2 separate regions of the Homo sapiens genome follow, and region 1 is linked to region 2. Evidence: fine-mapped expression QTL. A gene starts in region 2. The other region holds a variant in brackets. All regions are shown on one strand. Distances are from middle to middle. Region 1 overlaps ACTR1A (actin related protein 1A). Region 2 holds the start of SLC68A1 (solute carrier family 68 member 1).

Region 1 (4,383 bases), 32 kb after region 2:
ATGGTACCATTTTTATTTAAGAAAAGAAAGCGGCCGGGCGCAGTGGCTCACACTTGTAATCCCAACACTTTGGGAGGCAGAGGCAGGCGGATCACTTGAGGTCAGGAGTTTGAGACCAGCCTAGCCACCATGGTGAAAGCCTGTCTCTAGTAAAAATGCAACAATTAGCTGGGCATGTTGGCAGGCACCTGTAGTTCCAGCTACTTGGGAGGCTGAGGTGGGAGAATCACTTGAATCTGGGAGGCAGAGGTTGCAGTGAGCCAAGATTGTGCCACTGCACTCCAGCCTGGGTGACAGACTCTGTCTCACAGGAAAAAAAAAACAAAACTAATATTTGTATATAATATATACATTTATTTGAACCTAGAAAAAGGTAAATGCACACCAAAAGAAGGGAAGTGGAAATAGGATGGTGAGGAGGATTCTCACTGTATACACAACCGTATGTGTGATTTTTCTGTAGTCTCTGACTTTTCTACATTGAACATGTTTTGCTTTGGGAATTAAAAATACTAGTAATAAAGGGAAGAAAAAGACAGAAAACCTGGGGAAAGAAGAAAGTACCTAGAAGCATCAAAGCAGCCAAGTTCAGGAACATAAGGTAGGAAAAGCACATGACTCCTTGTTACGCCACCCTGGGGTGCTTTTAACCTACTTTCCCAGCTCAGGCCTGAACTCTCCCAGCTTCCAGGGCCTCTGTGACAGACACCGCCATGAGCACTGTCATGCTTGAAATGGACTCCCATGGAACACGTGCTGTCTGGTTCTTATTGCAAGGGCAGAGCACGATGCTTTGGGAGATTTTTGTTGTTGTTTTCTTTTTAACTATGCTTTCCTTTTACTCCTTGGTCTCCTGATGGTAAAGAGAAGCAAAGACTAAAGCCTACTCTGAGAATAGAAGAGAACCACAGTCCTGCTGCTCCAACACTTGGTATGTCGAGTGAGGTGTCCAGAAAAGAATCTGAGTTCTCCCAGCATCTCAGGTACCACCCAGGGCCCAATCAATGTAAACAGTGACTCTGGACACAGAGACCAACCCTGTGCAGGACAGATGTCAAGGCTTAGTATTGCTTGTAGATACACCCTGTCCTCTTCCTTTTTTTTGAGATGGAGTCTCGCTCTGTCGCCCAGGCTGGAGTGCAGTGGTGCAATCTGGGCTCACTGCAAGCTCTGCCTCCCAGGTTCATGCCATTCTCCTGCCTCAGCCTCCTGAGTAGCTGGGACTACAGGTGCCCACCAGCATGCCTGGCTAATTTTTTTTTTTTTTTTTTAGTAGAGACAGGGTTTCACCGTGTTAGCCAGGATGATCTCGATCTCCTGACCTCGTGATCCGCCCGCCTTGGCCTCCCAAAGTGCTGGGATTATAGGCGTGAGCCCACCGTGCCCGGCCTTTTTTTTTTTTTTTTTTTGAGACAGAATCTCGGTCTGTCACCCAGGCTGGAGTGTGGTGGCACAATCTCAGCTCACTGCAACCTCCACCTCCTGGGTTCAAGCGATTCTCCTGCCTCAGCCTCCTGAATAGCTGGGATTACAGGCGCGCACCACCATGCCTGGCTAATTTTTGTATTTTTAGTGGAGATGAGGGTTCACCGTGTTGGTCAGGCTGGTCTCGAACTCCTGACCTTGTGATCCACCTGCCTCGGCCTCCCAAAGTGCTGGGATTACAGGCATGAACCACCGCGCCTGGCCTCTTCTTCCTTCTTAACTCTTCTACCACCACACCTGATACCCTCACCTTTCTAACCCAACATGGTTTGCAGCTGCACCCGTAGCTGGGGCAAGCCTTTTCCTGCTGCCTGTTGACCACTCTCCTGGGGTGGAGTGTGGTATTTACTGACCTCATTCTACAAGCACTGAACACACCT[G/T]GAGACTCTAAGTAGCCAAGGTTATCTGCACCAAAGGCTTCCCAGCAACATGCCTGCTTCCCTCCTTGACTCTCTTATTCCTGCTCTTCTGCAGGAAGAGGGGGAGTGAGACTGGCCATCTGGTGCTTGCCTTTGGCAAGACAGAGGTTGGTGGAGGAAGCAAGTGGTTGAAGGAAGCCAGGTGTGGTGGCTCACGCCTGTAATCCCAGCACTGTGGGAGGCCGAAGCGGGGCAGATCACATGAGGCCAGGGAGTTCAAGGCCAGCCTGGCCAACATGGCAAAACACTGTCTTTACTACAAATACAAAAATTAGCCAGGTGTGCTACACGTCTGTAATCCCAGCTACTCAGGGAGGCTGAGGCAGGAGAATCACTTGAACCCAGGAGGTGGAGGTTGCAGTGAGCCAAGATCGCACCACTGCACTCTAGCCAGGGAGACAGAGTGAGACTCCACCTCAAAAAAAAAAAAAAAAAAAAAAAGAAGTGGTTGAAGGGCAGAGAAAGTGGTATGAGAGGAGAGCAGGGCAGCCAGTTCTCTAAGGGAGCAGGAATCTTTGCCAACAGAAGAGAGTGAAAACAGAAGACAATGTGCAAACTCATTGGACTGGGCAGTACAACAAGGAGCCTGGAAAAGGTGCAGCTGTCAAGTGAGCTGAAAGACTGGGAAGGAGGGGCAATTTGCCTACAAACCCAAGGGCTCTGAGAGCAAGGCACGGACAGGCAAGGGGGGAACTCCTAGAACTTGTTTGCTCAGGCTTCCAATGATTGCTCACTGCCTTCATCTGGGTGTGGTGATGCCAACAGACTAATTGGGTCTCCCGGCAGAGGTTAAAAACAAGAGAGGATGAGATCTGTCCTTCAGACCCTGGATATTTTTAAGAGATGATTTTCCTGGGTATTTTATTTTTAGTTTACTAGCAAAAGGACTAGAGTCTGGGTAAACAGGCAGATTATGAAGTCAGATTTGTTTTTTCTTCTCTGTCCTTCCTAGCAAAGAGTATAAAAAGCCCAGTTCAAATATCATCACCTTCCTCCTGAAGAAACATCCCCAGTTGGAATGAATGATCATCTTCCTATTATCTCACAGCAAATTTCCATTACCTGTACCACGAGGTGGCATGCACTTCATTCTGCTTTTTATTACAATGTAAGGTTTCCACTTTCGTCTCTTTTCAGTTGAAGTTCCTTAAGGCTAAAATACATTTTGGCAGTATCTGGCATTTGCTGGGTACTCAACAGATGCTGGCTGAGTAAAATTAAAATCAAGTGCAAATGACTGGCAGATAGAACCTAAAGTATGGAACCTGAATGACCAGCTGAAATGACAGAAGCCCCAGGCAGAGGCGGTTCAGCAAAGGGGAAAGCAGCACTGGGAGTGATGCACAAGGTGGAACCAGACCCAGCGTGTCCTTGCAGCCCCCAAGCAGGCCTGCCATGCCAGTCATAGGGTGAAGAATCAGTGGAGAATGAGGAGCAGCTGAGCTGCCTCAATTCTGCTCAAGCCACACAAATTCTGCTCAAGAGCATACAAAAGGGTTATGTCCATTTCTTTAACAGTATTTACAACTAGGAACTGTGTACCTGGCAAATAAGCTGCCACTGTCTTTGTTATTCACTCTGGCAAGGCCAAATGAAAAAATGCCTGGTAGAGGCTTCTTGAGTAGTCTTGGCTGGGTGTGGTAACTCATGCCTATAATCCAAGCACTTAGGAAGGCCGAGGCACGCAAATCACTTTGAGGCCAGGAGTTTGAGACCAGCCTGGCCAAAATGGAGAAACCCCATCACTACAAAAAATACCAAAAAGTTAGCCAGGCATGGTGATGTGTGCCTGTACTCCTAGCTACTTGGGAGGCTGAGCTAGGAAGACTGCCTGAGCCCGGGAGGTCGAGACCAGCCTGCACATGGCGAAACCCCGTCTCTACAAAAATACAAAAATTAGCTGGGCATGGTGGTTGTGTGCCTGTGGTCCCAGCTACTCAGGAGGCTGAGGTTGGAGGATCACTTGAGTCTGGGAGGTCAAGGCTGCAGCAAGCTGTAATTGCACTGCTGCACTCCAGGCTGGATGACAGAGTAAGATAAGACCCTGTCTCAAAACCAACCAACCAACCAACCAAACAAACAAAAAGTATGGCTGGGTGCGGTGGCCCACGCCTGTCACCCCATCACTTTGGAAGGCAGATGAGGGAGGATTGCTTGAGGCCAAGAGTTCGAGAGACCAGCCTGGGCAACATGGCAAAACGCTGTCTCTACAAAATATTAATTTTAATTTTAATTTTAATTTTTTTGAGATGGAGTCTGGCTCTGTCACCCACCTAGAGTGCGGTGGCACAATCTCGGCTCACTGTAACCTCCGCCTCCTGGATTTAAGCGATAGTCCTGTCTCAGACTCCTGAGTAGTTGTTGTTACAGGTGTGCGCCACCACGCCCGGCTAATTTTTGTATTTTTAGTGTAGAGGGGGTTTCACCATGTTGGCCAGGCTGGTCTCGAACTCCTGATCTCAAGTGATCCACCCGCCTT
Region 2 (4,383 bases):
GATTACAGGCACACGCTACCACGCCCAGCTAATTTTAGTATTTTAGTAGAGATGGGGTTTCACTATGTTGGCCAGGATGGTCTCGATCTCCTGACCTCGTGATCCAACCACCTCAGCCTCCCAAAGTGCTGGGATTACAGGTGTGAGCCACCTTGCCTGGCTGTGAGGGACCAAAGGTCTTTTCTCCTGGGTCACATCCAGCTCTGGCCCCTGCCAGCCCTCCCCATTTCCATTTCCCCACTGGATACCCAGGGAGGGCTAAGTAAAGACTCGGGTTTGCTTTGAAATAAAAGCACATGCTGGCCACAGATAGAAAGGCGGGGAGACTCCTTTAGCAAATGTATGGAGATCCCAGTGTGCCGGACCCCAGGCTGAATGCTGGGTTTTCTGTTCTCACAGCCAGGAAAGCACAGATGGAGGTAAGAGGTGAGGAGAGGGACAAAATGATCACCTGTCTTCTACTCATGAGGCTTTCTGGATCAGGAGGAGTTTCAGCAGTTGTCTAAGTCTAGAAGAGAGATGGTTGTATGTATGTGTGTGCGTGTATGTGTGGCTTGGGGTGACATGGGAAGTGTGAAGGGTGTCCGAAAGAGAGAGATTGGGAAGGAGGGAAATGAGACAGGTTAGTGGGAGATGGATTCTGGGGGCAAGGTTCATGGCATCCCTGGGGGCTCCTCAGGAACTGGTTGAATAATCTGTAGCCCCTGGACACTAGGCGTCTACATTGGACCATTTGCTGTGGTTGTTAGGAGGAGGACAACATTCCTGTTGCAGGAAGTTAGCCGACAACCATCAATGAAGGTCATAAGGATGAGCAGTTCACAAAGCTCCTACACCCTTGTTTCTCATTTAATGTCTGAAAAATCCCTGTAAAGCATAAAACAGACTCACAAAAGGAGGGTCCCAGCCAGGTGCAGTGACTCACGCTTATCATTCCAGCACTTTGGGAGGCTGAAGCGGGAGGGTCCCTTGAGCCCAGGAGTTCAAGACCAGCCTGGGTAACATAGTGAGACTCCATCTCTACAAATAATTCTAGAAATTAGCCAGGCATGGTGGAGTGAGGTGGTGGTCCCAGCAACTTGGGAGGCTAAGGTGAGAGGATCATCTGAGCCAGGGAGGTGGAGGTTACAGTGAGCTGAGATCATGCCACCACTGCACTCTAGCCTGAGCAACAGAGCAAGACCCTGTTTCAAAAAATAATAATAAAGAAGTCCCTTAGCAAAGAAGTGTTGGAGCTAGGGGTTGAGTTCCAAGTCCCCCATAAGGCAAAGGCCACAGGCTTTTTGCCCTGTGTCCCAAGGTAGGGGAACCAGGCAGAGCTGGAATGTGTGCTGTTTGCTTGCCCAAAAACCTATCCAGGCTTACAGGCCAATTGGGAGAAAACATAAAACATCCTCCACAGCCTACATTGAGCCAAACAAAACTTGATTTTGAGGGATTGTGCAGGTGTGGGAAGAGGAAAGACTCTTGTTATGGGAGTCAGGATAGCGGGTTCCACCTCGACTGGGCCCTTGCTGTTTGCGTGTCATTGAATCTCTCTGAAATGCAGTTTCTTCACATATAAAATGTGGATAAAAGCGCCTACCTCCTAGGAATGATGTGAGGACTCAACAAGAGAATGCACGTGTTGTTCTGAATGTAGTACGGTGCACATAGCAAGCACTCAGTACTCCTTAGGTTTTATTATTGCCGTTATTAATACAAAGAGGTTGTGCTGCATGGTTGCTCATTCAGGCCCTGGTGGCTGTTTCCCACCTTCAGCCCTGGCTCCTGTGGCTAGAGCCCTGGTGCCCACAGCTCAACCTGGACCTGTCCACCCTTGAAGGGCTCATGATGCAGCATCAGGGAGTCCCAGATCGAGCCGCTGACACCTCCAAGTCGGCTGCAGCTGTGCATCCGCTCAGACCACAAGACTCAATGGAGGATGCTGACCTCTCTTTGTTCTCCCAACGAGTACTAGGCAAGGAGGGAAGGAAGGTGAGCGCTTAGAAAAAACGTGTTGGTTTCAACTGAAATGACATTAAGCTATCGTGGAGGTAAAGGAGAGGGGTTGAGCCGGTCAGGAATCCAGGCAACCTGACCCTATTTGCCAGTGTCCGCTTTTAATTTTGGTCGCTAAGGGCAAGCGCCCGTGACAAACATGGCGGCGGCAGCCTCAGGCGCAGTCACCTGCCGGAGCTGCGCCCGGGGGCCGCGCGGAGCCAATCGCTGGGCGGGGGCGGAGGGAGAGGCTGGGGAAGCCCTAGAAGTGCGCGCAGGCGCATTGGCTCGCACCTGGCTCCCGCCAGCCGTGGGATTAGGCTTCGCCGGCTACGATTGCGGTGAGACGCTGGCCAGCGGCCGGGGCTCGCGGGCAGGAGCGGGCTGGGCTGGGGCCGATCTGGCACAAACGACAGACCCGAGGGGGAGGGGAATGCTTTGCGCTCTGGGAGTCATGGGGGCTATCTGCGGGGGTCTTTGGGGTGATCATATTGTGGATTGGGAGAGTTGTGTGGTCCGGGCGGAAGAAGCGGGGTTCAAGGGGGCAAGGGTGGAATCCTCGCAGAAAGGCTCTCCGGGGGTCTGGAGGAAAGGGATGCAGTGGGTCAAATAGCTCCCTGGTGGTCTGGGATCGAGGGATGCACTGGTCAGGTCGGGATCCGTGCCATTAGCATAAAGGCATTTAACCCTGGTGGCACTTGGGGAGCTTTGAAAAACACCGATGCTGGGCCCGCCCGAAGAGATTCCGATTTAACTGTTCTGGGTGAGGCCTGGGCCTCGGTATTATTGCACAGCTCCTCAGGTGATTTTAACGTGCAGGCGGTGGGGAGCAGCCCTACACGTGTTTCAGCACCAGCTATTGAGTGAAGAGCTCCTGGGCTGATCCCAAACTCCTCAGTGGCTTGGGAGGGGTGGGTGGTCCTGAGGTGAAGCTGTCGCCTCTTCTGGGACCTGTGGGGGAGGGAGAGGGAGAAGGTCCCCATCTCAACAAGTTGAAAGCTCATTTCCAGCCGGAGGAGGAGGATGGGCCCCCACCCCCCAACCCTGGTGCTAGACCCTGCTGTGGGGAGACTGGGCAGGAAGACAAGACCCCGAGAGTGAAACAGGAAACACAGCAGACAATTCAGGGGTCAGCTGCCTGTTGAGAAAAGGGCACATATTATACCTTTCATGTTCATTTGTTCATTTGGTATTCCTGAGGATAGGCAGAGAATGGAATTGTTTTCTCTGCTTCACAGATGTAGGAATAGACTCAGATAGTAAGTTAAAGATAATGTTCACACCTGACCCAGGGCTCCTGACTCCAAATTATGCCTCTTCTTAGCTTTTACCTCTGCACTAATGTCTCTTGTACAGTCTGATACCTCTCACTCCAGGGGCCCAGTTCGGCATTCTTGGTTTCCGCCACTAAATTCATCAACCTCCCCCACCCACCATAGGTTGGTTCAGAAATCAGGGAGATGTTGCTGCTTCCATCCCTTTCTAGTCTTTACCTACCAGGGGCCTGGTAGGGTGAAGGGGAAGAGTTTTGACACCTGCTAGAGGGCTTCTTCCAAACAGATCTGTCACTTCCCCACCCCCAGCGCCCCACCTGTTGTCCTCAGCATAGAATCTTGCACAAGGTTTACAAAACCCTTCCTGATGTGGCCCCTTTCTCCCGCGCTGCTCTGAGCTCTCTTCCCAGATTGTTTCTGTGTCTCTTAGCACAGTGCTGTGCACCCGGCGAAAGCTTAATAAATGTTCCTCTGTTATGATCACTATTCTTCTTTGTACCTGCTGCCTTGCTTTAGTGTCTTACTCAGAGAGGCACATCAAGCCTCCCAGGCTGCCCCTTCTCTCTGACTCCCACAGTTAAGCAGAACACAGAGCTAGGAGGGGCACAGTGGGGTCTGAAGATGACAGTTTTCCTATGACTGCTGCTGCTGTTCCCTAGGGCTGAGGATGTTGTTGATATTGACCTTTTAGGGGCCAATCGACCCAGCAGGGATTGACTGAGCAAGCTGAGGGAGCCTGGTGGAGGCAAAGGGCAGGGATCAAGGGCGGGACTAACCCAGCCCTGCTTTTTTTTTTTTTTTTTTTAAGAGACGGAGTCTCACTCTGTCCTCCAGGCTGGAGTGCAGTGGCGCGATTTCGGCTCACTGCAAGCTCCTCCTCCCGGGTTCACGCTATTCTGCCTCAGCCTCCCGAGTAAGCTGGTACTACAGGCGTGCCCGCCACCACGCCTGGCTAATTTTTGTATTTTTAGTAGAGAGGAGGTTTCATCGTGTTAGCCAGGATGATCTCGATCTCCTGACCTCGTGATTCGCCCGCGTCGGCCTCCCCAAGTGCTGGGATTACAGGCGTGAGCCACCGCGCCCGGTATCAGCCCTGCTTTTAAGAAGCCTGTGGGCTGGAGGAGGGGAA

What was found. PIP is the estimated chance that this variant, and not a neighbour inherited with it, causes the effect. A credible set is the group of variants that fine-mapping cannot tell apart.
Region 1: its variant is the best candidate, but not a certain one, in a credible set for the expression of SLC68A1 in whole blood (TOPMed, PIP 0.56).

The regions. Positions count from the first base shown.
Region 1 is chr10:102,490,680-102,495,062 of GRCh38, forward strand. All of the region lies in intron 1 of ACTR1A (actin related protein 1A), which reads right to left. Among named protein-coding and RNA genes, the nearest start is that of ACTR1A, 9.8 kb to the right of the region's middle. The variant G/T (reference allele first, on the strand shown) is at 1,866.
Region 2 is chr10:102,459,130-102,463,512 of GRCh38, forward strand. It overlaps SLC68A1 (solute carrier family 68 member 1), which reads left to right and starts at 2,266. Exons shown (of 10, transcript NM_024789.4): 1 at 2,266-2,321. It overlaps LOC124902493 (a long non-coding RNA gene), which reads right to left. Exons shown (of 3, transcript XR_007062270.1): 3 at 1,664-2,931. RefSeq lists enhancers at 1,785-1,854, 1,982-2,665, 2,666-3,348 and a silencer at 2,125-2,344.